Regions from separate parts of the Homo sapiens genome. Here region 1 is linked to region 2. Evidence: fine-mapped expression QTL. Tissue or cell type: whole blood. Region 2 holds a variant in brackets; the other region holds the start of a gene. All regions are shown on one strand. Distances are from middle to middle.

What was found. PIP is the estimated chance that this variant, and not a neighbour inherited with it, causes the effect.
Region 1: SMG1 starts here. The variant in region 2 is fine-mapped to the expression of SMG1 in whole blood (TOPMed, PIP above 0.99).

What each region holds. Positions count from the first base shown.
Region 1 is chr16:18,921,515-18,936,470 of GRCh38, forward strand. It overlaps SMG1 (SMG1 nonsense mediated mRNA decay associated PI3K related kinase), which reads right to left and starts at 4,894. Exons shown (of 63, transcript NM_015092.5): 1 at 4,436-4,894. The coding sequence starts at 4,527. It overlaps SMG1-DT (SMG1 divergent transcript), which reads left to right and starts at 4,673. Exons shown (of 2, transcript XR_001752094.2): 1 at 4,673-4,760. RefSeq lists enhancers at 1,868-1,927, 4,761-5,373, 5,374-5,987 and silencers at 4,116-4,705, 4,736-5,075.
Region 2 is chr16:18,947,571-18,962,830 of GRCh38, forward strand. No RefSeq gene overlaps it. Among named protein-coding and RNA genes, the nearest start is that of TMC7, 29 kb to the right of the region's middle. The variant C/T (reference allele first, on the strand shown) is at 8,875.

The sequences.
Region 1 (14,956 bases), 26 kb before region 2:
AGAACTGGAAATCACTGAATTCTATTTGACTCTAGTTCCATTTAATATTAGACTGGTGTGAAAGTAATTGCGGTTTTTGCCAAAACCGCAATTACTTTTGCACCCACCTAATAGGTATAAAATATGTAACTTCACTTAATTTTATCCTTTATGTATTTCCCCGTATTATGTACCTATGGACATCAAACTTAGTACAGACTGATAAAAGGCTGAATAGACAACTCTGGTTTCAAAAATCCAGCTTCTCACAACATCAGACATACTAGTATACAGCTTTTCTAATTTCACAACACATTTCCATTTCTTGGTCTTTCACAACAGAGAAGATGTGTGTACTTTTGAATACTTTAATCTGTCTACAATCTACCAAAATTGGAAGGTCTTTTTATTATACAGTTTCATCCTTTTAGAAGTATAGAAAGATCCTAAGTTTGGGCACAGTAAGACACTCAATATAGATCTACTACTAAACAAGTAAGACCAATTACACAATTAATGTCCTAAAACCCCGAGTGGAGAAGTAAAATCTACTTGTTTTCTGTTGACTTGAATGCCTTCTCTTCTTTGTTGAATTAATCAATCTATTTGACTCCAATGTCAAATTAATCAGTCACTTTAGAATATTAAAATGTACAATTATGAATTACACATTTAATTTTAAAACACATCATTCTGATCTCTGTCTTGATTGATACTAGAAGATTATCTTCCAAACTAAGGTGGAAAAAATGACAGACTTTAGCTATTGGCAATGATAGGTCATTTTTTTAGGGAAGAGGAGTAAAGAGGGCAACCTCCATAGGTCAGATATCCCTTTGTTCTAAGAAGCCACCACCCCTGTTTCTTCATATGAAAAAAACCAGAGGCATCCAGTGGTTCCCAAAACCTTCTCAACTTTACGCTTGAGGAACCCATAGATTTCAAATAATACAACTGACCTAAGACCACTCATTTGTTTAACCATTCTTTGAGAAGGAGTCTTGCTCTGTTGCCCAGGCTGGAGTGCAGTGGTGTGATGTCGCTCAGGACAACCTCCGCCTCTCAGGTTCAAGTGATTCTCCTGCCTCAGCCTCCCGAGTAACTGGGATTACAGGCATGCACCACCATATCCCGCTAATTTATTTATTTATTTATTTATTTTAGTAGAGACGGGGTTTCACCATGTCAGTTGGCCAGGCTGGTCTCGAATTCCTGACCTCGGGTGATCCACCCACCTCAGCCTCCCAAAGTGCTGGGATTACAGGTGTGAGCCACTGCCCCCGGCCTGCTTAACCATTCTTAAATGTCGGGTGCGGTGGCTCACACCTGTAATCTCAACACTTTGGGAGACTGAAGGTGGGCAGACTGTTTGAGTTCAGGGGTTCAAGACCAGCCTGGGCAACGTGGTGAAAACCCCATCTCTACAAAAAATACAAAAATGAGCCGGGCTGTTGGCAAGCGCCTGTAGCCCCAGCTACTTGTGGATGCTGAGGCAGGAGGCTTGAGCCTGGGAGGTCGAGACTGCAGTAAGCCAAGTATCTGTGCCACTGCACTCCAGCCTGGGTGACACAGCAAGACCCTGTTCTCAAAAAAATTTACAGAAGAGTTGACTGGGAGCACAGTGAATGAAAAGGAAGACTATAAGCCAGTGCCATATAAATGCTTACTGTTGGAGGTATGCTTCTATGGAACACGGGTTTGCTCTCTTGCCATAAGACATTCACGTATACAGCCACCTGCAACACTTCCTGTCAGTATGTGTGAAGTATCATGTGTGGTCAAAATGGACTCAACAGTCATTTTCCACACCAACTGGCAAACTAACACTAAAAGAAATCAACAAGTGTTGCTTTTTCAAAAGCCTAAATCGGCTGAGTGCGGTGACTTACACCTGTAATCCCAGCACTTCGGGAGGCCAAAGCAGGCGGATCACCTGAGTCAGGAGTCCAAGAACAGGCTGGCCAACATGGTGGAATCCCGTCTCTACTAAAAATACAAAAATTAGCTGGACGCCTGTAATCCCAGCTACTCAGGAGGCTGAGGCAGGAGAATTTTTCCTTGTAACCGGGAGGCAGAGGCTGCAGTGAGTCGAGATGACACCACTGCACTCCAGCCTGGGAGACAGAGCAAGACTCCATCTCAGGAAGGAAAAAAAAAAGGCCTACATCAAGGAAAACAGAACCAAAACACCAGGGACAAAATGGTACATAAGAGGCAAAAAAAAATTAATCAAAATTATTCAGATGAACCATAATAAATGTGCCTGCATCTGAAGATGTTCTAAACCTTCATTTAAGCAAGAAGCAAGATCAAGATCCGTTCTGTCAGTTACCTGGAGTCTGTCGTCTTTCTGAATAGGGGACAGAATCACCTCAAATTTAACTAATAAAAATTTATGACTTGGCAAACACCCCAGGTATTTTTATTGACTAACAAATCAGCTATGACAATCTTAGCAACAAATCAAGTTATGCTATGGGGTATGTCCACACTTCCCTGTTCCCTCTACAACAGGAGAAAATCAAATCTTTCCAACATCCTAACAAACTGTTACTCCCTATAACCAAATGTATATCACAGTATCGTCTACCAAGGCGTTACATCCTGAAACTTTCTTACAAAAAGCACAGCTTCAAAGAAACCTTGTAAGCTTTCTTGTAAGCTCCTCCCTTCCCCCATCGCCCCTCCCCAGAGCCAAGAAATAAAGCACTTGAAAGAAACAACATGGATAATATTTATTAATAGCTCATGTACATATTCCATAACTACATAAGCCATTTGGCTTCATACCTGTCAGCAATGAAGTCAGCTGGCCCTAGCACGTGGCTGCGACTCTTCTCTATTTATTTAGAACTACCAACTACAATTTACACTTTTCCAAAAGCTGTAGGACTATTTGGGAAGGGCACTTTATTCTTCTAAAAGGTTACTAAATTCTCTTATATACTTATACTGATCACAATACTGAAAAATAATAGAAAATCCATTGTCATTTATTTACCACCTAATTTGTTAGATGCCAGAAAATCAAATTTCACACATTTCAATAAAAAGGCAAAACTAAGCATGTCAATCATAGAAAAAAATACTTAATCAACTAATTTTATTTAAAGCACTCACAAACTCTTAAGTGGTACAAGACAAGTCAACGCTGTTTATCGAACAATATTTTTTTTTTTACGACTAAACATCTCAATTCTAGACTCAGGCACTAATTATTAAAGTCATCTAGTTATATACACCAATTCTCAACAGACACAGTATTTGGAAAGGCATATTAAATAGACTAAGATGTGTACCACCTATTAGCCAAAGATAATTTTATTGATTTTTCTAACGAGTCTTCAAATGTTACATTCTAACATCTTAGCAAATTATTTCCAAATACTGCTGGAATTACATGTAACTATCAGGAAACAAAAGGGCTTCCCAACAACTTGCGCGTTCTACATTATTTGGCCAGTTTCTGGACAATTATAACAATTGTGCTCCAAAGTAGGAGAGTTCCATGAATCAATTACCCCTAAAATATATTTCTGTATATTTAAGGAGTTCTAAGCATTGGGTTAAATTCCAAACAGACTCTGAATACAAGCATTTATTAAGAGAGATTAGAATAAATCAGTCCTAAATTAGGCACAGCTGCCCTCCCATTGATCAAAAAGACAGGAAACTACATTTATTTAAAAAGTTAATGTTCCTAATATATTCAAATCTCACTAAGCCCCAAAACGGTCTGAGATCAAATCCTCCATAAATGAGGAAATTCTCTAGACTTCTAAGTGGGTGCCCAAAGAGTTCACTCAAGTGTCCAGGTATGAATTACGATTCACCAGAGTAACCGGCCTTGCACTTAGGGAAAACTTCCATCGCCCAAGACCAGCGTGGGTCGATCCCATCAACAGTCACACAATCTCATCTCATGCTCCACTAATGAATGTTCTGCCTAGAGTCAGAGCAATGCCTTAGCTGGAGTTTTGTTTTGTTTTTTTCAATATTAACACGTGGGGGTCACAGAAAGGAACAGAGGTTAGAAGAGCTCTCACGTGGCGGCTGAAAGAGTGGGGAACCGAGAAAGTGAATGAGTAACAGGGAGGGTCCTGGACTCTCAGCATCTCCCAACTCGGGGTCAGGGGGAGGCTGTAACTGGAATGCCCCCCACCCCCACCCCCGCCTCTTTCTCACCTCCTGGTCCCGACCCCAGGCCAGTGCCACCGCCGGGAGCCCCGGGTCTCGGCTCCAGCCCCGGGCTGAACAAGCAGGGAGGGGAGGCACTTAGGCCTCGCCTCCCCGCGGCCTTCCTCCCCCAGCCGGGGCGGAGGAGACCCAGGAAGCCGCGCCCGGCTCCGAGGGGTGGAGGGCCTAGGCCGCGCCTCCCAGCCCCGCGGCCCTAGGCCTCGGCCCGCCCGAGGCGGAGCCCGGGAGGTCGGGGCGGGGTCCCGGGCCGGTCACCCACCTGGGTTGCCAGTCATTCCAGCTCCGCGGATACTTGGTGCCGCCGCCGCCGCCGCCGCTGCTCAGCCGAGACCCCGGGGCTCTGCGGCTCATTACCTTCCCCGACACGACATGGCCAAGCGCCGCCGCCCAAAGAAGCGCGAGTCGCCGCCCGAACCGGCCGCCGCCGACACCCCGCTCCGGCCCGGGGCTGAGGAGGAAGCCGAGAAGGAGGAGGAGGAGGAGGAGGAGGAGAAGGAGGAGGCGGCGGAGGGCGGGGGAAGAGGACGGCCGTTCCGGGTTCCGCCTGAGCCCGCAGCGCAGGACGAGGAGGCGGGAGCGGCGCGGTGAGAGAGAGGCGGATGAAGGGGAGGCGACGTCTTTTCCAGGGCCGTGCGCGGCCCACGTCGCCGGGGCCCCGGAGGACGAGGACGACGAGGAGCAGGCGGTGGCGGCAGCTCCTCACGCTCACACGGCCACTGCTTCCCCGCCTCCCGGCTCCGCCCGCCGCGCCGCCGCTGTCGCACGGCATGCTGGGAGCGAGGGGCGGGGTTGGCGCCCGCCGGGCCTGGGGAGAGAGGCGGGTCCTGTCGGCGGGGCGGAGCCGAGAGAGGCGGGGTCGATAGCAGGCCGCCCCGCCCCCCACGTCCCCAGGCCCTTGGGCGGCGAAGAGGTCTGGGCGTAGCGGTGACGAATCCTAAGACAGGGGATCTCCACTACTGCGGCCACACACTTTTCTCCCAAACGCTTCCCGGAAAGCACCGGAGGGCCGGGCAGTCAGGTGTAAACAGGCGTCCAATCAAGGACCTGCGGTGTGGGTGGGGGCTGGTGCCCTGCGGTGCGCGCGCACACAGGCGTGCCCTTGGATTCACGTGCGCCAGTTTTCCCACTTTCTACGGGGTGGGGTGGAAAGTGAAAATAGTAAGATCGAGAGGTGGATATCCACCTTCCCAACCTCCACCTGAAATGTGCCCATCGAGTCCTGGCACCTTTTACCATTTCTTCACAATGAAAAAAACTAAACGATGGAAGGGAAGGGAGTACCCACGATCACCAAACCCTGTCCTCTGCAATGTGAAATGTGCTTTGAAGTCCTTTCACCCTGAGGCTTGCCCGCCTTCTGCTGGTGAAAGAAGCTGGGGGCTAGGCGCGGTGGATCACGCCTGTAATCCCAGCACTTTCGGAGGCCGAGGTGGGCGGATCGTCTGAGGTGAGGAGTTCCCGACCAGCCTAGCCAACATGGAGAAACCCCGCCTCTACTAAAAATACAAAAATTAGCCGGGCATGGTGGAGGGCGCCTGTAATCCCAGCTACTTGGGAGGCTGAGGCAGGGGAATCGCTTGAACCCAGCAGGCCGAGGTTGCAGTGAGCCGAGATCAGACCATTGCAGTCCAGCCTGGACAACAAGAGTGAAACTCTGTCTCAAAAAAATAAAAGAGAGAGAGAAAGGAGGGAGGGAAGAAAAAGGAAGGAAGGAAGGGAGGAAGGAAGGAAAGGAAAGGAAAGGAAAGGAAAAAAGAAAAGAAAGAGAGAAGGCCGGGCGTGGTGGATCACGTCTGTAATCCCAGCACTTTGGGAGGCCGAGGCGGGCGGATCACGAGGTCAGGAGATCGAGACCATCCTGGCTAACACGGTGAAACCCCGTCTCTACTAAAAATACAAAAAATTAGCCGGGCGTGGTGGCGGGTGCCTGTAGTCCCAGCTACTCCTGAGGCTGAGGCAGGAGAATGGCGTGAACCCGGGAAGCGGAGCTCACAGTGAGCAGAGATGGCTCCACTGCACTCCAGCGTGGGCGACAGAGCAAGACTCTGTCTCAAAAAGAAAAAAAAAACAAAGCAGCAGCTGGGTAGAGGAGACGTACCCGACCGTCTACCCCATGACGTGTCCCATGCCCCAGGGAAAAAAGTTCCCTAAAGCATCTGATGCATAACGTGAATGCACACACGTTTTTTAAAAGTTGGGCCAGGATGCTCCTTAAACGAGTGTCTAAACCGTATCTGCATAAGGAGTCATAACCTATCATTTTATGTTGCAAAGAAAACGTCTTTATATATCGCTTGTGCAAATAAATATTGTTACCAAAAGTACTTGAAGATTACGAGGAGTTGACCCCTTCACACACATGCATATCCCCTCCACCTTGGGCTCCTTGCTTATGGCCACCAATCCCTCACTAAGGGAGGATCCTGCCAGTTCTAAATGATGGGGACTACAAAAATTACAAAAATTAGCTGGCGTGGTAGCGCGTGCCTGTGGTCCCAGGAACTCAGGAGGGTGAGGCAGGAGGATGACTTGAGTCCAGCGGGTGGAGGCTGCAGTGACCTATGATCCCGCCACTGCACTCCAGCCTGGGCTGCGGAGGGTAGGGAGGGAGGGAGGGAGGAGAAGAAAAAGAAAAGGAGGGGCACCATGGATGGCTGACTCCTGTAATCCCAGCACTTTGGGAGGCCGAGGTGGGTGGATCATTTGAGGTCAGGAGACCAGCCTGACAAACATGGTGAAACCCCATCTCTACAAAAAAATACAAAAATTAGCCAGGCATGGTGGCGCACGCCTGTAGTCCCAGCTATTCGGGGAAGCTGAGGCATGAGGATTGCTTGAACCCGGGAGCCAGAGGTTGCAGTGAGCCGAGATCATGCCACTGAACTCCAGCCTGGGTGACAGAGCAAGACTGTCTCCAAAAAAAAAAAAATCATTTAGGTGAAGTGATTCATGCCTGTAATTCCAGTGATGGGAGGCTGAGACTGGAAGATCCTTGAGCCTGGGAGTTATAGGCCAGCCTGAGCAACATAGTGAGACCCCCATCTCTACAAAAATTATTAAAATTTTTTTTCAGACACAGTTTCACTCTTGTGGCCCAGGCTGGAGTGCAATGGTGCGATCTCAGCTCACTGCAACCTCTGCCTTCCAGGTTCAAGCGAGTCTCCTGCCTTAGCCTCCCAAGTAGCTAAGATTACAGGCACATGCCACCATGCCCGGCTAATTTTGTGTAAAAATTTAAAATTTTTTTACATTAGACAAGTTAGAAATTGCTTGAGCAACTGGACACAATCTCTGGTACTACCTTTCTTTTTCTTTTTAATTTTTTTATTTTATTTTTATTATTTTTTGAGATGGAGTCTCATTCTGTTGCCCAGGCTAGAGTGCAGTGGCACAGTCTCGGCTCACTGCAAGCTCTGCCTCCCGGGTTCAAGCCATTCTCCCGCCTCAGCCTCCCGAGTAGCTGGGATTACAGGCGCCCGCCACCAAGCCCGGCTAATTTTGTTTTTTATATTTTTAGTGGAGACGGGGTTTCACCGTGTTAGGCAGGATGGTCTCAATCTCCTGACCTCGTGATCCGCCCGCCTCGGCCTCCCAAAGTGATGGGATTACAGGCGTGAGCCACCGCGCCTGGCCCTCTTTTTCTTTATTGGTCAAAATATTATCCATCTAGGCATATGGATATGGAGGCATGCCTGTGATCCCAATTACTTGGGAGGCTGAGGTGGGAGAATCGCTTGAGCCCACGAGTTTCAGGCTGTGGTGAGCCATAATGGTGCCGCTGCACTCCAGCCTGGGCAACAGGATGAGACCATTTCTTAAGGGGACGGAAAAAATCACTCTGGCTGTGGCAGATTTCCTTAGGATAGATTCCGAGAAGTGGAGTTATTGGGGAAAAGGCTGTTAATGATTTTAAGTCTTTGGATACAGACTGTTAAGTTGCTTTCCAGAAGTTTCTGCCAATGATAGTCTGATACTTTCTGTGTCCTCACACCACCCTTTGTCAACACTGAGTGTTTTTGAGGGTTAATTATTTCTATGAGAGAAGTTAAAAAAAAAAAGACAACAGAGAAATTGCTTCAGGTGGGGCATGGTGGCTCACGCCTGTAATCCCAGCACTTTGGGAGGCTGAGATGAGAGAATCACTTAAGCCTAGGAGGTGGAGGTTGCAGTGAGCCTAGATCGTGCCACTACACTCCAGCCTGGGCAACAGAGTGAGACTCCATTTCAATAAAATTAATCAAATGAATCAAACGTGAGCAACTCTCATAACTTCCAACATTTTTTTCTTCTTCCTGTTGGTGGTTCTGCCTCTCTGGTTCCATTAGGATTTCCCTACTCCATTTCAGTCATGGGAGCCGAGTTTCTGTTCCTGAAACACACCAAGCCTTTCTGGCCTCTGGATTTTTGTACTTGCTGTTCCCGCCATCTGGAATGCCTTCCCTGCATTTGTTCCCATCAGGGTTGGGACTAGCAACGTGACAGGTGATGGAGTTGCTGAGGGTGCAAAATTTAAGGAGGCACCTACTCCCAGGGTCATGCAAAAGCCAACTTTGCATTTGCACAATCCTGTGAGTAAGTCCCTCCTTAAATTTGAGGCTCTGCCGTAATCCCAGCTACTCAGGAGGCTGGGGCAGGAGAATTGCTTGAACCTGGGAGGCAGAGGTTGCAGTAGGCTGAGATCCTGCCATTGCACTCCAGCCTGGGCAACAGGGCGAGAATCCATCTAAAAAAAAAAATGAGGCTCTAGGCACCACATTTGCCCTACTCTGGCCCCTGCCCTGATTTTCCTGGCCTGTCTCATCTCCAGACAGGTTTCTTTGACGTCCCTTGCCCATAAAAGCTGGCCAGTGCCCTTTCCAGGTACTCTGTCACATACCCTATTTCTTTCCTTGGTAGTACCCAGCACCATCTGCAAGTATTGGGTTTCTTTGCATATTTAGCATCGGTCCAACCCTTAGGATATCAGCTTTGCAAGAGCAAAGGTCACATCTATCTCAGCCTACCTCCTCCATACTCAGCACACAGCACAGCACCTGACCATAGGAAGCACTCAAGAAATGGGAGGAATGAAATGGAAATTATCTAAAATAAGGATCAAGATTGATACAGAAGTATTCATCTCAGTTTTACTTATTAATAGCAAAACAAAAACAAAACACCTGGAAATTATACTAATGCTCAACAATAGGAAACTGATTAGGATGCAGTACATTCAGAGCTGAAATTTTCTGCAGCCATTACAAATTACATTTGTGAAGTTTTGTTTTTTTTTTTTTTTTTTTTGAGACAGAGTTTTGCTCTTGTTGCCCAGGCTGGAGGGCAATGTCTCGATCTCGGCTCACTGCAACCTCCACCTCCCGGGTTCAAGCGATTCTCCTGCCTCAGCTTCCCGAGTAGCTGGTATTACAGGCGTCTGCCACCATGCCCAGCTAATTTTTGTATTTTTAGTAGAGACAGGGTTTCACCATGCTGGGCAGGTTGGTCTCAAACTCCCGACCTCAGGTGATCCGCCCGCCTCCGCCTCCCAAAGTGCTGGGATTACAGGTGTAAGCCACTGTGCCCGGCCTAAAACAAAAATTTACAAAGCTAAAAGTAAGCATTCAATAAATAGGTGTTGAATGAATGAACAGAGAATGAATACTCTTAGAGTGTGGCAGTGACTCAGACAGACCAACTGAGTAAACTTTAGCCAAGACATCAAGTCTTAGCTCTAAAAATAGTGACCAACTCTACCTAATGTTTATTGAGCATTTATTTTTTATTTTATTTTATTTTATTTTATTTTGAGATGGAGTCTTGCTCTGTCGCCCAAGCTGGAGTGTAGTAGCAACATCTCGGCTCACTGCAACCTCCGCCTCCCAGGTTCAAGCAATTCTCCTGCCTCAGCCTCCCGAGCAGCTGGGACTACAGGCATGTGCCACCATGCCCAGCTAATTTTTGTGTTTTTAGTAAAGACAGGATTTCGCCATGTTGGCCAGGCTGGTCTCGAACTCCTGACCTCAGGTCATCTGCCCACCTCAGCCTCCCAAAGTGCTGGGATTACAGGCATGAGCCACGGCACTCGGCCTTTATTGAGCATTTACTAATGCAAAACCACTCAGTCAAATGATCAATATGAGTTGTTACTTCAAGGAATTCCCCCAAACCAAGCTAAGGTAGGTTTCAATGTGGCATTTTACACTTTGGGGCTGTGATACCAAGAGAAGCTAGCTCCCTGCACAAGGTCACCCAGCTGGTAGCAGGCAGGGCCAGGAAGGGAATGTCACAGGCAGAGACAGAAGGGACATTTGGCCCCAACTCCACATTCGTCAAAGGCGTCAGATTTAGACCTTTGACGTGATCGCCTAGTGAAGTTAGACCCAGAGTCCCAGAGACACTCGAACAGGAAGGAAGTCTGAAGTTAACAAACTATGTCCATTACCAGCTCACACACCTGTAGAGGCTGTGCATGGCATTCATACTTCCTAATAAATTATATTATTACCTGGTGAACATGTAATTACATCGCTTCATAGTTTGTTTCCCCTTGTGTTAAAAGTGTTCAAAACATAAAAAGGAAACAAAATATAGTACAAATTGTGAATGCTCTTTGTTATTTCTTAAATTTTTGATACACTCAGAACCTCAAAAACTGTGAGTAACGTGATCCTGTCTTAACTCCTAAAAGATCTTCCAGTAAGGATTCGAACACAAACCAACCCCAGGGTCTTTCATCACCAGGATTTTCCTAGAAATCTTCCAAACTTCCTAGAGAGACACTGTACTGACATTTATTCTCTAAGTAAACAAAAGAGAATTCTCTCTTTTGTTTTCTTTTGACCCTATGTCTGGCCCAGGATTAACCCCTATTAGGCACCAAGAATTGAGGAACTTTATTCTCAACCAGGAGACTCAACTTACATGGGTGATTTTTAAAATGCAATCTTAAAAGCAAATCCACATCATAAAGACATTAAAGCAGATTTTTCAAAAAGAAAAACAGCAGCCTTCTTGTTCCTGCTCCCAGCTAGGAAATCTTTGTCACAGGTCAGGCTCCCTCAGTAAGGGCTATTTTTATAGCGATTTTTCAAGCTGGTGCAGGAGGAATTTGGCTGAGAAACCTCATGACACATTTGAAATCTCCACTTGGGCAGTCTCAGCTTGAGGCAGGGGCCAAAATTCTATGAATCAGGGCACAAGAAGTGCTGCCCAGTGGCTCGTGCATTCTTTCAACAATAAAATAGGAAGCCGGTGATGCTCATCTTAAGCTATTTGTAACTTTTAAATTGGAGAAAACAAGAAAGTGAAATTCCCTTATGTTTGGTCCTGAGCTGCCCAAGGACTGGCATGGTGATTTTAATGGAGCTAACTCCTTTGCTTTCCCTGATTAATCCATTATTAGGAATATATGTAAATAAAATGCAAACTTATGTAAATAAAATCTCCCAACAGCAAGTTACTGCCCTCTATTGTTTATACAGTTATCATTTAACATGCTGGACGCAGTGGCTCATGCCTGTAATCCCAGCACTTTGGGAGGCTGAGGTGGGTGGCTCACCTGAGGTCAGGAGTTCAAGACCAGCCTGGCCAATATGGTGAAACCCAATCTCTACTAAAAATACAGTCTTGGCTCACTGCAACCTCTGCCTCCTGGGTTCAAGCGATTCTCCTGCCTCAGCCTCCCGAGTAGCTGGGACTACAGGCGTGATCCACTGCGCCCAGCAAGTTTAACTCTAAAGAGTTAAAGAGACTACCAAATAAGGGAAGGATAAATATTTCACTTCAGAACTTCTAGTTGAAATAGGATCATTTAGCTTCTTTGGGACACTGCTATCTATGTCTTAGCTGAAATGATTTCTTCATCCCATACCAGGGAAGCAAATGGAGGCTTATTCCATAAAGTGTTTTGTGCTGTATAATTTGAAGGTCACACTGCTTGGCATAGTGTTTTCACCATCCCCCAGGCATACCACGTCTCAGAGGACCCTCCCTGCTGGTCCCTGGAAGAGGCTTCTCAGATAAAGCAGGACTTAAGGTAGTTTTTAGATGAAGGGGAGCAGATGGCTGAGTATTACATCACCTCAGGTAAAGGAAACAGGGATATGAAAATAATAGGATTGTAGAAAAATAATAGTCTAATCTCCAAATTATCAACAAGTATTGGGGAAGTGTTTACTCCCAGCAAACATCAGGGATGGAAGGGGACTAATAAAAGCCTGGCCCTGTACTACTCAATTTAAAAGCAGATACCATCTTTTTTACCTTTGTGTCAAACTAATAACAGCCACTTACTAAGAATTTTATTTTTATTTCTTTTCTTTCCTTTCTTTCTTTTCTTTCTTTCTTTCTTTTCTCTTTTTCTCTTTCTTCTTTTTTTGATGGAGTCTAGTCCGTCACCCAGACTGGAGTGCAGTGGCACGATCTCGGCTCATTGCAACCTCCACTTCCCGGGTTCAAGCAATTCTCCTGCCTCAGCCTCCCGAGTAGCTGGGGTTACAGGTGCCTGCCGCCATACCCGGCTAATTTTGCATTTTTAGTAGAGATGGGGTTTCACTATGTTGGTCAGGTTGGTCTCGCACTCCTGACCTCAGGTGATCCACCCACCTCAGCCTCCCAAAGTGCTGGGATTACAGGCATGAGCCACTGTGCCCAGTCTCTCTCTTTTTCTTTCTTTCTTTTCTTTACTTTTTTATTTTATTTTTATTTTTTTTGAGACAGGGTCTTGCTCTATTACCCAGATTGAGTTGCAGTGCTGCAAACACAGCTCACTGCAGCTCAACCTCTTGGGCACAAGTGATTTTCTCACCTTAGCCTCCCAAGTAGCTGGGACTACAGGTGTATTCCACAACATACACTGGGCTAGTTGGATTTTTTTTTTTTTTGACGGAGTTTCACTCTTGTTACCCAGGAATGGAGTGAAATGGCGTGATCATGGCTCACTGCAACCTCTGCATCCAAGATTCAAGCAATTCTCCTGCCTCAGCCTTCCAAGTAGCTGGGATTACAGGCATGTGCCACCACACTGGCTACTTTGTATTTTAGTAGAGACAGGGTTTCTCCATGTTGGCCAGGCTAGTCTCGAACTCCTGACCTCAGGTGATCCAGTCACCTCGGTCTCCCAAAGTGCTGGGATTACAGGTGTGAGCCACCATGTCCAGCCTTTTTATTTTATTTATTAATTTTTTTTTTGAGACAGAGTCTCACTCTGTCGCCCAGGCTGGAGTGCAGTGGCACGATTTCAGCTCACTACAACCTCCACCTCCCGGGTTCAAGCGATTCTTCTGCCACAGCCTCCTGAGTAGCTGAGATTACAGGCACTTGCCACCATGCCCGGCTAATTTTTTGTATTTTTAGAAGAGAAAGGGTTTCACCATGTTGGCCAGGCTGGTCTCCATCTTCTGACCTCGTGATCTGCCCGCCTCGGCCTCCCAAAGTGCTGGGATTACAGGCGTGAGCCACCCTGCCCGCCCAGAGATGGGGTCTTTCTATGTTGCCCAGACTGATCTTGAGCTCCATGCCTTAAGCAATCCCCCCACCTCCCACAGAGGAGCTGGAGACCAGCCTGACCAACATGGTGAAACCCCGTCTCTACAAAAATGCAAAAATTAGCCAGGCATGATGGCAGGTGCCTGTAATCCCAGCTACTTGGAAGGCTGAGGTGGGAGAATCGCCTGAACCCGGAAGGTGGAGGTTATTATGAGCTGAGATCATGCCACTGCAGTCCAGCCTGGATGACAGAGCAAGACTCCATCTCACACACACAAAAAAAAAAAAAAAAAAAGAAGAAGAAGAAAAAGAAGAGAAATACACCAGCTGGGCCTGGTAACACATGCCTGTAATCCCAGGACTCTGGGAGGCCAAGGTGAGTGATCACTTGAGTCCAGAATTTCAAGACCAACCTGGGCAACATGGAGAAACCCTGTCTCTACAAAAAAAAAAAAAAAAAAAAAAAAAAATTTAGCCATGCATGGTGGTACACACCTGTAGTCCCAGCTACTCAGGATGCTGAGGTGAGAGAATTGCTTGAGCCTAGGAGGTGGAGGTTGCAGTGAGCCAAAATTGCACCACTACACTCCAGCATGAGTGATAGAGTAAGACCCTATCTTAAAAATAATAATAATAAAGAAAAGAAATAGACTTATAGCTATCTATATATATGTTATGTAATGTTATATAGATATAGGAAAAGGCTGGAAGGATATTGTGACAGTTAATTTTAATGTGTCAAATTGACTGGGGCACAGGGTGCCCAGATATTTGGTTGAACAGTATTCTGGGTGTGTCTGTGAGGATATTTTTTTTTTCATTACTTTTTGAGACGGGGTCTTGCTTTGTCAGCCAGGCTGGAGTGCAGTGGTGCAATCATGGCTCACTGCAGCCTTGACCTCTCAGGCTCCAGTGAGCTTCCTCCCTCAGCCTCAGGTGTAGCTAGGACCACAGGTGTGTGCCACCATGCCCAGCTAATTTTTTAATTTTTTGTAGAGACAAGGTCTCACTATGTTGCCCAGGCTGGTCTCAAACTCCTGGGCTCAAGCGAGTCTACTCCTTCAGATTCACAAAGTGTTGGGATTACAAGGCATGAGCCACCACACCCAGTCTGTGAGGGTATTTTTGGATGAGATTAACTTTTATTTATTTATTTGTTTGTTTTTTAAACAGAGTCTCCCTCTGTTGCCCAGGCTGGAGTGCAGTGGCATGATCTCGGCTCACTGCAACCTCCGCCTCCCGGGTTCAAATAATTCTCCTGCCTCAGCCTCCAGAGTAGCTGGGATTACAGGTGCACACCACCATGCCTGGCTAA
Region 2 (15,260 bases):
CACTTTAGGAGGCTGAGGCGAGCGGATCACCTGAGGTCAGGAGTTCGAGACCAACCTGGCCAACATGGTGAAACCTTGTCTCTACTAAAAATACAAAAATTAGCCTGGCGTGATGGCAGGCGCCTGTAATCCCAGCTACTTGGGAGGCTGAGGCAAGAGAATCGCTTGAACCTGGGAGATGGAGGTTGCAGTGAGCCAAGATCGCACCATCGCCCTCCAGCCTGGGTGACAAGAGTGATGACTTTGTCTCGAAAAAAAAATGTATTTTTAGTAGAGATGGAGTTTCACCATGTTTACCAGGCTGGTCTAAAACTCCTGACCTCAAGTCATCTGCCCACCTCGGCCTCCCAAAGTGCTAGGATTACAGGCATGAGCCCCCCCACCTGGCCTGTTTTTGTGTTTTTTGAGACAAGGTCTCATTCTGTGGTTCAGTCTGGAATGCAGTGACACGATCACGGCTCACTGTAGCCACAGGCGCGCACCACCACTCCCAGCTAATTTTTTGTATTTAGAGACAGGGGTTTCACCATGTTGCCCAGGCTAGTCTCCAACTCCTGGGCTCAAGTGATCCACCTGCATAGGCCTCCCAAAGTGCTGGGATTACAGGCGTGAGCCACTGTGCCAGGCCTGAGGTTCTGCATTTCTACCGGGCACCCAGGGGATGGTGACGCTGCGCGTACTAGACCACACTGGTTCTCAAACTCTCCTGCCCACTTGAATCACCTGCGGGATGTGTAAAAACTACTGATGCCTGAGTCCTATCACCAGATTCTGATTTAATTAAGTGTGATTGAAGCCTGAGCATTAGAATTTCTCAAAGCTGCCAAAGAAATCCTAGTGTGAGGTAAAGTTTGAGATACACTGCCTTAGACTAGAGCAGTCACTCTCAAACTTTTGTGTACACAAAGTTACCTGGAGAGTTTGTTACAAAAAAACCCAAAAACCCACAAAGCAAAACAAACAAACAAAAAAACCACACAGATCGCTGGGATCCACCCTCCTGAGTTTCCGACTCATCAGGTCTGGGTAGGGCTTGAGAATCTGGCTTAGGCTATAATGCAGTGGTGCCATTATAGCTCACTGTAGCCTTGAACTCCTGGGTTCCAGTGATCCTCCTGCCTCAGCCTCCCAAAGTAGCTGAGACCACGGGCACATGCCACCATGCTAAGTTTTTATTTTTATATTTTTATTTTTTAGAAACCAGGTTTTGCTGTGTTGCCCGGGCTGGTCTCCAACTCTTGGCTTCAAGCGATCCTCCTGCCTCCCAAACTGCTGGGATTACAGGCATGAGCCAATTTTTTTTTTTTTTTTTTAGTAGAGACAGGATTTTACCTTGTTGGCAAGGGTGGTCTCACCCACCCAAGAATTTGTATTTTTAACAAAGTGTGGCTGGGCGCGGTGGCTCACGCCTGTAATCCTACCACTTTGGGAGGCCGAGGCAGGTGGATCACCTCCCCTGAGGTCGGGAGTTCGCGACCAGCCTGAGCAACATGGAGAAACCCCGTCTCTACTAAAACTACAAAATTAGCCAGACGTGGTGGTGCATGCCTGTAATCCCAGCTACTCAGGAGGCTGAGGCAGGAGAATCGCTTGAACCCGGGAGGGGGAGGTTGTGGTGAGCCGAGATCATGCCATTGCACTCCAGCCTGGGCAACAAGATCGCAACTCCGTCCCAAAAAAAAAGAAGTGTGGCTGAATCTGCCAGTTCTGGTGATCACACTTTCAGAAATACTTCCTTGGGCAGGTAAAATTATGTAATGCAGTGTTCAAAATGGGAGAACAATTATTATTATTATTATTATTATTTTGGCAGGGAGGACAGGTTCTCACTCTGTTGCCCAGGTTGAGAGTATTATAGTTCACTGCAACCTGGAACTCCTAGGCTCAAGGGATCCTCCTCCCACCTCAGCCTGCTGAGTATCTGGGACTACAGTTGCACACAACCTCACCCTGCTCTTTTGTTTTTCTCATTCCTTCTTTCTTTCTTCCTTTTTTTTTTTTTTTTTGTGACAGGGTCTTTCTCTGTCACCTAGGCTGGAGTGCAGTGGCGTGATCTCGGCTCACGCAACCTCTGCCTCCCAGATTCAAGCGATTCTCCTGCCTCCACCTCCCGAGTAGCTGGGACCACAGGTGTACATCACCATGCCCGGATAATTTTTTTGTGTGTATTTTTAGTAGAGACAGGATTTCACCTTGTTGGCAAGGCTGGTCTCAAATTCCTGAACTCAGGTGATTTGCCCACCTTGGTTTCCCAAAGTACTGGGATTACAGGCATGAACCACCACACCCAGTTTTGCCCTGCTAATTTAAAAAATGTTTTTGTAGAGATGGGGCCTCACTATGTTGCTCAGGCTGGTCTTGAACACATAGGCCTCAAGCAATCCTTCCACCTCAGCCTCCCAAAGTGTTGGGATTACAGGCATGAGCACACAGTGCCTAGCCTATTATTATTATTTTTATTGAGCAGACTCCTGAACCAGAATAGGTTCAGAGAGACTTTTTAATTTTTTTAACTGTATGATATCTCTCAGTTATGGCAGTGTAACTTGTGTCACTGAATTTCCAAAGTATACCTTTTTTTTTTAACTGTGCTTCAAATAAATAGAAAAATAGTTATAGGCTGGGTGCAGTGGCTCATACCTGTAATCCCAACACTTTGGGAGACTGAGGCAGGAGGGTCACTTGGGGCCAGGAGTTCAAGACCAACCTGGGCAACATAGCAATAACCCATCTCCAAAAAAAAAAACCAAACAAACAAACAAACAAAAAAACAAACACTAGCCAGGTGGGATGGTGTGTGCCTATAGTCCCAGCTACTGGAGAGGCTGAGACAGGAGGATCACTTGAGCCCAGGGGGTTGAGGCTGCAATGAGCCATGATCACACCACTGCACTCCAGCCTGGGTAACAGAATGAGACCCTGTCTTGTGGCTGGGTGCAGTGGCTCACGCTTGTAATCTCAGCACTTTGGGAGGCCGAGGCAGGTGGATTACAAGGTCAAGAGATCGAGACCATCCTGGCCAACATGGTGAAACCTTCTCTCTACTAAAAAAATACAAAAAATTAGCTGAGTGTGGTGGTGCGTGCCTTGTAGTCCTAGCTACTCGGGAAGCTGATGCAGCAGAATCGCCTGGACCCAGGAGGCAGAGATTACATTGAGCTGAGATTGCACCACTGCATTCCAGCCTGGCGACAGAGCGAGACTCTGTCTCAAAAATAAATAAGTAAATAAAATACAAATAAAAAAATAAAAAAAGAGACCTTGTCTCAAAAAAAGAAAAAGAGAAAGAAAAAGAAAAACTTAAAAAAGAAACACAATTATATAGATGAAAAAAAAGAACCACTTCCTGTGGGCTGATGAAGAGGTGAGGGACCTCATAGACAGCAGCTGTGTTACCAAAGGGAAGACCAAGGGGAGGCCACTGATCTTCACTTAAGAAAGTATAAATTGTCAGTGTCCAGACGCTGCATTGGCCATCCTTCTCTTGCCACCTGGGGAGAAGTGTCTACCAACTGTAGCCAGCCTGTGGTCCTCTATTTATGCCACAGGACTTGCCAGCTCTCCAATCTATCCACTCCACGTGGACAACTGCCTCCGCCATAGTTCAGGACAACTGCCACCTCTCTAGAGCAGAGGGTGATGGGGCTTGTCCTCAGAGGGTGGTGCTGATGGGAGGGTAAACTCCTGTGCCTGGGCATGCTGCAGATTTCCTAAGTTAGAACAGTGGTAGAACATCACCTTTATGTCAGTAAAATCCCATGACTCCTTTACAGTATCATGGCTTAACCACCTTAGTTTTTATCCCAAGGGTAGAAGAACTGAGCTATAGCTATAGAGACACCAAGATATGGTCCAAGGAGTAAGAATTTTCTTATGAGGGCATGGTGGCTCACACCTATAATCCTAGCATTTTGCGGCCGGGCACGGTGGCTCATGCCTGTAATCCCAGCACTTTGGGAGGCCGAGGCGGGTGGATCACGAGGTCAGAAGATCGAGACCATCCTGGCTAACACGGTGAAACCCCATCTCTACTAAAAAAATACAAAAAATTAGCCGGGCTTGGTGGCGGGTGCCAGTATTCCCAGCTACTTGGGAGGCTGAGGCAGGAGAATGGTGTGAACCCGGGAGGTGGAGCTTGCAGTGAGCCGAGATTTCACCACTGCACTCCAGCCTGGGTGACAGAGCGAGACTCCGTCTCAAAGCAAACAAACAACAAAAAAAAAAACCTAGCATTTTGGTAGGCCAAGGAGGGAGGATGGTTTGAGCCTAGGATTTTGAGACCAACCTGGGCAACATAGCAAGACCTCATCTCTACAAAAAAAAATTTTAAAAATTAGACGGGCATGGTGGTATGCACCTGCAGTCCCAGCTACTCAGGAGGCTGAGGCAGGAGGATTGCTTGAGCCCAAGAGTTCAAGGCTGCAATGAGCTATGATTGGGCCACTGTACTCCAGTCTCTACAACAGACTGAGACCTTGTTTTGTTTTGTTTTTTTTTAAGTGCCACTTAACTCAGGCTACTGGTTATGAAAATGCCCCTGAAAGAAATTAAATAGGTAAGTAAAGGAAATTTCCTGGGGGAAGATATTTATTTATTTATTTAGAGACAGGTTCTTTCTCTGTCACCCAGGCTGGAGTGCAGTGGCACAATCTCAGCTCATTGCAACCTCTGCCTCCCAGGTTCAAGCGATTCTCCTGCCTCAGCCTCCTGAATAGCTGGGATGACAGGCGTGCACCACCATGCCTGGTTAATTTTTGTATTTTTAGTAGAGCTGGGCTTTTACCATGTTGGCCAGGCTAGAAAATAAATATTTAAAAACAGCTTCTGGGCCTTACCTCTGCTTCATCTTGAAGCTTATTTGTAAATCAGCATGCTTTTTTCTTTTCTCCTTTTAAATTAACTAATTAATTAATTAATTGTTTTGAAACAGAGTTTTGCTCTTGTCTCCCAGGCTGGAGTGCAATGGTGCAATCTTGGCTGACTGCAATCTCCACCTCCTGAGTTTTAAGTGATTCTCCCGCCTCAGCCTCCCGAGTAGCTGCGATTACAGGCACCCACCACCACGCCCAGCTAATTTTTATATTTTCAGTAGAGATGGGGTTTTCTCCATTTTGGCCAGGCTGGTCTCGAACTCCTGACCTCAGGTGATCCACCTGCCTCGGCCTCCCAAAGTGCTGGATCACAGGCATGAGCCACTGTGCCTGGCCATCTTTTCTCCCTTTCTAAATGCAAAATGTGAAGTAAAAACTGGAGAAAACATTACGCTGATTCAGAAATAACTTTTTGGAGCAACAAGCTTGGTCTCTTTAGGGACATTCCTGACATTGAACATTCTCCCATCTGGCTCCCATAAGAATATATATATATATATATTTTTAAGAGACAGAGTCTTGCTCTGTCACCCAGCCTGAGTGCAGTGGCACAATCATAGCTCACTGCAGCCTCGAACTCCTGGGCTCAGGCGATCCTACCACCTTAGTCTCCCAAGTAGCTGGGACTACAGGTAAATGCCACCCTGCCCGGCTAATAGGTAGGATTTTTAAATAGCCCTTGAGATGTGGGAAGGCAACTACCATTTATTTATTTATTTATTTAGAGACACAGTTTTCACTCTGTCGCCCAGGCTGCAGTGCAGTGGCGTGATATCGGCTCACTGCAACCTCCACCTCCCAGGTTCAAGCGATTCTCCTGCCTCAGCCTCCTGAGTAGCTGGGATTACAAGCGTGCGCCACCATGCCCAGCTAATTTTTGTATTTTTAGTAGAGACCGGGTTTCACCACGTTGTCCAGACTGGTCTTGAGCTCCTGACCTTGGGTGATCCCAAGGTCCCGCCTTGGCCTCCCAAAGTGCTGGGATTACAGGCCTGAGGCACTGCGCCCCCGCAACTACCATTTATTAAGCACCTGCTATAGGTCAGGCATTCCACAAACCTCTTTGTGTTCATTAACTCATGTATTGCAGTAGGAAGCTCTGTTATCATTGGGATTATGGCTTGTCTGGAATATTTTCTTAGAGTTTGCAAAAATATTTTCTAAAGCAAAACAGTCTATTCAGATAAAGCATTCCCACAGAGAAAATTATGCAGATATTAAAGAATCCTGTAGGGCTGAGAGTGTATGCAGGTCATTAAGCCTTAAAAACTTTCTGGACCTCTTAGGCTGGCCATTAAAACTCCTGGTGAGAGCTGGTTATTTAATTAGGCTACAAACAAAATTTCAGCAATTGCTTCTAAATGGTTTTTCCAGCCCTGGAGGGAACCCAGGCAGGATTGGTGTGTGGTAAGGCTAATTTTTGCCTCCTGGCAGTTTTTAAATATTGCTTTCTTTTGTTTTGTTACATGTAGACCATAAATTATATAGCAAAACACCACCATATATTAGGCAAGGGACCAATTTTGTTTTCTCTCTAAAATACATGTCAAACATTGGCCTTCAAAATGACTAGGTTTGCTCATTTTCTTTTTTTTTTCTTTTTTTTGAGACAGGGTCTTGCTCTGTCATTCAGCCTGGAGTGCAGTGGTACGATATAGGCTCACTGCAGTCTCAACCTCCTGGGCTCAAGCAATCCTCCCACTTCAGCCTCCCAAGTAGCTGGGACTACAGGCACATGCCACCACACCTGGCTAATTTTTTTTTTTTCCCCCGAGAGAGTCTGGCTCTGTTGCCCAGGCTGGAATGCACTGCAACTTCCGCCTCTCAGGTTCAAATGATTCTCCTGCCTCAGCCTCCTGAGTACCTGGGACTATAGGTGCGTGCCACCATGTCTGGCTAATTTTTGTATTTTTAGTAGAGATGGGGTTTCACCATGTCGGCCAGGCTGGTCTCAAACTCCTGACCTCAGGTGATCCACCTGCCTCGGCCTCCCAAAATGTTGGGATTACAGGAATGAGCCACCATGGCCGATCCTAGCTAATTTTTTAGGAAACTTTTTTGTAGAGATGGGGTTTCGCCATGTTGCCCAGGCTGGTCTCAAACTCCTGAGATCAAGTGATACCATTTGCCTTGGCCTCTAAAAGTGATGGGATTACAGGCGTGAGCCACTGCGTCAGGCTGCTTTGCTCATTTAATAAATATGTTTTAAGGTACCTACTATATGCAATGGTGAATAAAATAGACATACTCCTTACCCTCAAGGAGCTTCAGAGCTGGCACAAGAAAGAGATAACTGCAAGTAAGTCAATGTATAACCCAAAGCTGTGTTATGAACTTGTCTCTGTGTTGCATATGTACAATCCCAATTGTGTATGTGAGAGAAAATATCTAGGGTATCATTTATAGTGGAAGTCCAAGGAAAATGACATTAGCTGGGTCTTAGGGGATGAGGAAGAAGGGGCTAGATGGAGATTTGGTGAGGGGGAAAAGATTATCAGCTATTATAGAAGCAAAGGTCCCTCAGCCAGGTGTGGTGGCTCACACCTGTAATCCCAGCACTTTGGGAGGCTGAGGTGGGTGGATCACGAGGTCAGGAGTTCAAGACCAGCCTGGCCAACATGGTGAAACACCATCTCTACTAAAAATACAAAAATTAGCTGGGCGTGGTGGTGCATTCCTGTACTCCCAGCTACTAGGGAGGCTGAGCCAGGAGAATTGCTTGAATCAGGACCCTGGAGGCAGAGGTTGCAGTGAGCTGAGATCATGCCACTGCACCCCAGCCTGGGTTACAGAGTGAGACTCCATCTCAAAAAAAAGGGTCCCTGAAGTGTGAAAGAATGTGGCAACATCTGAGAGCAGAAAGAAGAGTGAGGTGGCTCACGCCTGTAATCCCAGCACTTTGGGAGGCCGAGGCGGGCAGATCACTTGAGGTTAGGAGTTCGAGACCAGCCCGGCCAGTGTGGTGAAACCCCGTCTCTACTAAAAATATAAAAATTAGCCAGGTGTGGTGGTGGGCACCTGTAATCCCAGCTACTTGGGAGGCTGAGGCAGGAGAATCACTTGAACCCAGGAGGTGGAGTTTGCTGTGAGCCGAGATTGCACCACTGCACTCCAGCCTGGGCAACAGAGTGAGACTCTGTAACAAAATAAAATAAAATAAAGTGAGGCAGGAGAGAGGGAGTAATAGGGTTCTACAAATAAATGGAACCAATAGTTACACACAGCGGACCCTTGAACAACACGGCTTTGAACTGAGCAGGTGTCCACTTCTATGTGGATTTGCTTCCACCTCTGCTACCCCTAATGAAGCAGCCTTAATGTCTGGGGTGACACCCAAGGTTCTTGGTCTCATGGCCATAGAGATCAAGGACTTGAACACATACAAAAGGTGAGGTTTAGAGTAGAAATTTAATAGGTGAAAGAAAGAGAATAGCTCCCTGCTACAGAGAGGGGTCCTGGAAAAATGGGTTGCTGAAGCTCAGTGAATCGCAAGGGTTTTTACAGATGAGCTAGTGGGAGGCGGTATTTGATCTACACAGGGCACGGAAAACTGGTTAGGACCAGGTGTGCCGTATGCATAGGGCTTGAATCTCTGGCAGCCCCCACTTCAATTGTTTATTATGCAGGTGTATCCTCTGCCTGAGCTACTCCATGTTGCTTATTTCTTTCACACTGCGCATGTGCTAACAAAAAAGGGAAGGTGGAGCCTCCATGGTGGACCTGCCTGGCCCCAGGTCGTCTTTTCTATCCATGCAGCTGCCCCCACGGTGGACCTGCCTGGCCCCGGGTCGTCCTTTCTATCCATGCAGCTGCCCCCACGGTGGACCTGCCTGGCCCCGGGTCGTCCTTTCTATCCATGCAGCTGCCCCCACGGTGGACCTGCCTGGCCCCGGGTCGTCCTTTCTATCCATGCAGCTGCCCCCACGGTGGACCTGCCTGGCCCCGGGTCGTCCTTTCTATTCATGCAGCTGCCGGCATTCCCCCGTGCAAGCTTCCAGTTTCC[C/T]TATCTATGTTTGCAGCCTGATCTTTCAGGCTGCTCCTTTTTAGAAAGTGATTTCTTGGGCTTTTTTTTTTTGTTAGAAGGGAAGTTCTACTGAGGACTCTCTTGCCGTCATTGTCTGCCTAAATAATTTCTTTCTATCTCCTGTATCACTAAGACAGCGAGACCATCCCCTCCTCTTCCACCTCCTCTCAGCCTCCTCAATGTGAAGACAAGGAGGTGAAGACTTTTGTTGTTTTGAGACGGAGTCTTGCTCTGTAGCCCAGGCTGGAGTACAGTGGCACAATTTTGGCTCACTGCAAGCTCCACCTCCTGGGTTCAAGCAATTCTCCTGTCTCAGCCTCCCACTTGAACCCAGGACGTGGAGATTGTAGTGAGCTGAGATCACACCACTGCACTCCAGCCTGGGCAATAGAGTGAGACTCAGTCTCAAAAACAAACAAACAAAACAAAACAAAGCATGCATTAATTGGCTTTAGGTTATCAGTAAGGCTTCTGGTCAATAGTAGTCTATTAGTAGTTAAGTTATGGGGGAGTCAAAAGTTATATGGGAGGCTGGGCATGGTGGCTCACCCCTGCAATCACAGATTTTGGGAGGCTGAGGTGGGAGGATTACTTGAGCCCAAGAGGTTGAGGCCATGGTGTGCTGTGATTGTGCCAATGCACTCTAGCCTTGTTGACAGAGTAAAATTCTCTCTTTCTCTCTCTCAAAAAATAAAAAAGTTTTGGCCAGGCACGGTGGCTCACGCCTGTAATCCCAACAGTTTGGGAGCCGAGGCGGGCAGATCACCTGAGGTCAGGAGTTCAAGACCAACCTGACCAACCCAGAGAAACCCCATCTCTACTAAAAATACAAAAATTAGCTGGGCATGGTGGTGTGTGCCTGTAATCTCAACTGCTTGGGAGGCTGAGGCAGGAGAATCGCTTGAACTCGGGTGACAGAGGTTGCAGTGAGCCGAGATCGCGCCATTGTACTCCAGCCTGGGCAACAGAGCAACACTCCATCTCAAAAAAACAAACAAACAAAAAACATGGGCATGGTGGCCAGCACTTGTGAGGCTGAGGCACAAAGATCACTTGAACGTGGGAGGCAGAGGTTGCAGTGTGCCGAGATCATGCCACTGCACTCCAGCCTGGGTGACAGAGGGAGACTCTAGCTTGAAATTATGTCTTCAGGGATTCTAGCCACAGTTAGACTTGGCTGAAAGAGGCAGGTGCAAGTGAGCAGCAGCCATCCCCCAAGGCCACTGTGGTTAGATGTGGCAATAGACACAGATACCTGTGGGCTCCAGTTTGTCCTTGCTGTCCTCTGCATCTAGCTCTTCTCCTGACTTCTGACCCTGATGACCAACACAGCCCCAGGCCCACCACCAGGTGCTTGGTGGTAGTAGCTACATACAGGCACAGGTTACCATAGAGCGTTCCCTTGGCCATCCTCTTTCAGTGACTAAATGTGCCTGGCTACTCAGATGGACTGGCCAGTACCTCCTCTGAGCCTCCAACTTTCCTCCTAGTCTGTCCCTTCCCCAGCTTCTCCTATGATTCTGTAAGGTCTAATTCCTAGAGTAACTCTCTTATCCCATAGCTCATAGTATTTCTGCATTGAGCCCTGACTGCTGCAATGAACCAGGCTACGCAGACCATGGTGAAGGCCAAGAGAAGCTACTGAAGATCTCTGAGTTAGGTAGTTGGCTTATATCTGTGGGTGCGGCTCCCTTAACTATAGCCAGGTTCAAGATTCTGAACAGAATAGTGTGCTGTGTGGAAAAAATTGCTGTTGGACTGTTTTCCAAATCCCCACAGCTGGTTCCTGCTGTGTTCCCATCTTGTGGGCAAGTAGTTATTAGGATCTTGTCTCAGTCCAGACAAGAGGAAGTGTTTGTGTTGTCATCTGAGAGCCCAAAACAGACTCCTCTTGATTAAGATGGACCCTGCCGGGTGCAGTGGCTCACGCCTGTAATCCCAGCACTTTAGGAGGCGAGGCGGGCAGATCCCGAGGTCAGGAGTTTGAGACCAGCCTGACCAACATGGGGAAAACCCGTCCCTACTAAAAATACAAAAATTAGCTGGGCATGGTGGGGCGTGCCTGTAATCCCAGCTACAGGAGGCTGAAGCAGGAGAATGGCATGTGGCGTGAATTCAGGAGGTGGAGGTTGCAGTGAGCTGAGATTGTGCCACTGCACTCCAGCCTGGGTGACAGAGCAAGACTCCATCTAAGAAAAAAAAAAAAAAAGATGGACTTTAAGGTTAAGGAAACAAAAATTACCTACAGGTCACGGGTTTAGGTATTGGCTGGCATGAATTCCTTCCTAAATTCCTAAATTCCTATGGCTGCAAGAATAACTACACTCTTGCTAAGCTCCCTCACAATAGGAGATGTCAAGGCAAATTATCATACCCCTCCTAACTTTGATTTATACCCAGACTGCTACAACTCTGATTGGACAGAGGACTGACCTTATAGACATTGTCTTCTGATGAGCAACTGCAGACCTTAAGCAGTTTCAGCCGGCTTATAGAGACTGCACACAAACTGTCTTTGTGTCCTATAGCTCACCTTTTGACACAGAGAGCCAAATTCCACCTCATTTTATTGCTAAAACCCCACCCCAATGTGAACATGGGATGTATGTTACACATATGTTTACCCATTGTGCATGTACTTAATTCCCCTCATAAATATGCGTAGTCTTTTCCCCAAACCTGCTGAATATGTATGATTCCATTGTGTAATACAGGCCCTGTAAGGCATAAAACCCAGCCTGCCCTTTCTCCCGTCAAAGAGAGAGCAGCTTCCACACATTCAGGAGACTGTCTCTTCCTGGTTTGTGAACTGATGTCACCAAATACAACTCTCCTGTTACTTAGTCATCTTGGTGGTCTTTGGATGACAGTATCTAACACTTAGAAGGGTTCATGAACAAGAGAACAAACTCCAGTCTTTTGTGGCTATTTATAGTCAACAGCTCAGCTTTGTGGCAGGCACAGGAACAGATTAAGTGAGTTGACTTTCAGACTGAGAGCAGCTCAAAATCTACCATCCATCAGGAAGTGTGTGCAGTAATCCAGGGATAAATACATGTAATTTGCCAAAAGAGGCAGTGGGTGCTATACTTGGAATCAATGTGAAGGTTTTAGAAATATACAGATGCTTGAATTCTGCTGCAACTCATTTAAATCTGGATTTCTGAGGGTGAGGCCTAGACATCTCTACTTTTTTTTTTTTTTTTGAGAAGGAGTCTTGCTTTGTTGACCAGGCTTGAGTGCAGTGGCGCAATCTTGGCTTCCTGTAACCTCTGCCTCCCGGGTTCAAGCGATTCTCCTGCTTCAGCCTCCCGAATAGCTAAGACTACAGGTGCCCGCCACCACGCCCGGCTAATTTTTTGTATTTTTAGTAGAGACAGGGTTTCACCATGTTAGCCAGGATGGTCTCTATCTGCTGACCTCGTGATCCGCTCGCCTTGGCCTCCCAAAGTGCTGGGATTACATGTGTGAGCCACCATGCCCAGCATCACTACTTTTTTTAGTCCAATTTATCAATTTTTTTTTCTTATCTTTTCTGGGACAGGGTCCTGCTCTGTTACCCAGGCTGTAGTGCAGTGGTGCAATCACGGCTCACTGTATCTCAACCTCCTTGGCTAAAGTGATCCTTCTCACTCAGCCTTCCTAGTAGCTGGGACTACAGGTGCATGCCACCGTGCTTGGCTAATTTTTGTATTTTTTGTAGAGATTTGTTTTGCCATGTTGCCCAGGCTGGTCTCAAACTCCTTGGGCTCAAGCAAGACTCCCAAAGTGCTGGAATTACAGGCACGAGCCACTTGCACCCAGCCCTATTTTTTTCTTTTGTCATTTGTGTTTTGGTGTCATATCTAAGACGGCTTTGCTTCACCCAAAGTTACAAAGATTTACTCCTATATTGTCTTCTATGCATCACATTTTAGCTGTTACATTACTGTTTAGTTCTTGAGACAAATGTTCATTAATAAAATCCAAATATATTACTATAAAAACTGTACCTAAGGCTGGGTGCGGTGGCTCACGCCTGTAATCCCAGCACTTTGGGAAGCCGAGGCGGTGGATCACGAGGTCAGGAGATCAAGACCATCATGACTAACATGGGGAAACCCCATCTCTACTAAAAATACCAAAAATTAGCCAGGCATGGTGGCACGTGCCTGTAGTCCCAGCTACTTGGGAGGCTGAGGCAGGAGAATCACTTGAACCCGGGAGGCAGAGATAGCAGTGAGCTGAGATTTGCCACGGCACTCCAGCCTGGGCGACAGAGCGAGACTCCATCTAAAAAAAAAAAAATTAGCCAGGCATGGTGGCGCATGCCTGTAATCCCAGCTACTCAGGAGGCTAAGGCAGGAGAATTGCTTGAACCCAGGAAGCAGAGGTTGTGGTGAACTGAGATTGTGTCATTGCACTCCAGCCTGGGCAACAAGAGCAAAACTCCATCTCAAAACAAACAAACAAACAAAAAACAAAAACAAAAAAAACTGTACCTAAGAAGGGTCATGTCCCTTCTCTCCAAAGGATGCATCTTGTTGGAGGGTCAAAACACACCAGCATTTATCATCACTGCTAGCTGAGGGCCCCAGAGGCAGTCTAGGGCAGTGGTTAAGGGAGCAGATGCCACAGTCAGTTTTCCTAGATCAGCAGTTGGCAGACTTTCTGTACAGGAATGTCTTAGTCTGTTTGTGTTGCTATAAAGGAATACCTGAGACTGGTAATTTGTAAAGAAAAGAGCGTATTTGGCTCATGATTGTGCTGGCTGGAAGACTAGCCATTTGGTGAGAGCCTCAGGCTTCTTCTACTCATGGTGGAAGGGAAAGGGGAGCTCCTGTGTGCAGAGATTACATGGAGAGAGAGAAAGCAAGAGAGAGATGGAGGGTGCAGGCTCTTTTTATTTTTTATTTTTACTTTTATTCTTTTTTTTTGAGACAGGGTCTCAGTCTGTCACCCAGGATGGAGTGCAGTGGTGTGATCACAGTTCACTGCATCCTTGAACTCCTAGGTAGCTGGGACTATTGGTGTGCCACCATGTCCAGTTAATTAAAAAAAAAAATTGTATACAAAAAAAAGGAGCAAGATGGAATCAACTATATCAGATTTTTCTCCCTGTCATAATTTTTGCAAAGGTGATCTCACTGCTGCAGTCCTTCCATTGTCTCCTGCCTGGACACTCAAACCCACAGCACAGTCCCTGCTTTTATTCTCACCCATCCTCTCTCTAGAACTCCAGTTCTGCCCACACAGTGGCTGACTCGCCATCTCTACCTGGACATCCACAGGCCCTGGGACTCAGTGGGTCCCAGACCTAATGGTCATCTCCTTCTTCCCTCCTGCAGCTCCTTGCCTGGTTTCCTGACCCAGGATCCTCCCAGTGACCATCTAGAACCTGGGAATCAGCCTGCCTCCTCCTTCTCATGCTCCCGGACCTATGATCAATCAGTAAGTCCTGTCGGTTCCACCTCCATGTTCTGGCAAATCCATGCCTTCCTCTGCTCCTTTTCTGGGTCACGCCTTCCTTGCAGCAATAGCCCTGGATCTGGTCCAGTTGCCTTCAGTCCGGCCTCCTCCAAAGCTGCCAGGGGACATTTCGTGTTCCCAAACAACTTATTTCTGACCAGGAGCCTCCCTTGCCTAAGAGCATCTCGGTTACCTTCACGTAGAGTAAACTTATGAGAAGAGGCTTTCGTTTTTTTTGAGACAGAGTCTCAGTCTGTCACCCAGTCTGGAGTGTGGTGGCATGATCTCGCCTCACTGCTACCTCCCTTTCCCAGGTTCAAGAGATTCTCATGCCTCAGTCTCCTGAGTAGCTGTGATTACAGGTGCCCGTCACCAAGCCTGAGCAATTTTTGTTTTTTTAGTAGAGACAGGGTTTCACCATGTTGGTCAGGCTGGTCTCCAACTCCTGACCTCAAGTGATCTGCCTGCCTCGGCCTCCCAAAGTGCTGGGATTACAGGCGTCAGCCACTGCACCCGGCTAAGAAGGAGCTTTTTGGAAGCCCCCAGATCTGGTCTCTGCCCACTTTTCCACCTCTAACTACAGATCCAGCCTGCCCAAGCAGGGTGACACCTAGCTCCCAGAACTCGAGGGCACACCCCGCTCACCCAGCTGTACTCTGCCAGGCATTCCTTTCCTCTTTCCCTCACCTACTTGGCAGACGAGCTTCTCTTCAAGTCCCAGCAAGTCTGTGTCTTTGTGGTGAAGCCACTTAATCCCCCACGTACTGATGGCTCTGGGCTCGTTTTTACAAGAATGAAATTTGCTTGTCATTTCCCTGACCCCTCGTGTAAATTCTTTGAAGGCATATATATATATATATATATATATATATATATATATATATATATAAAATTATTTTTTTTTAGGTAACTTTTGT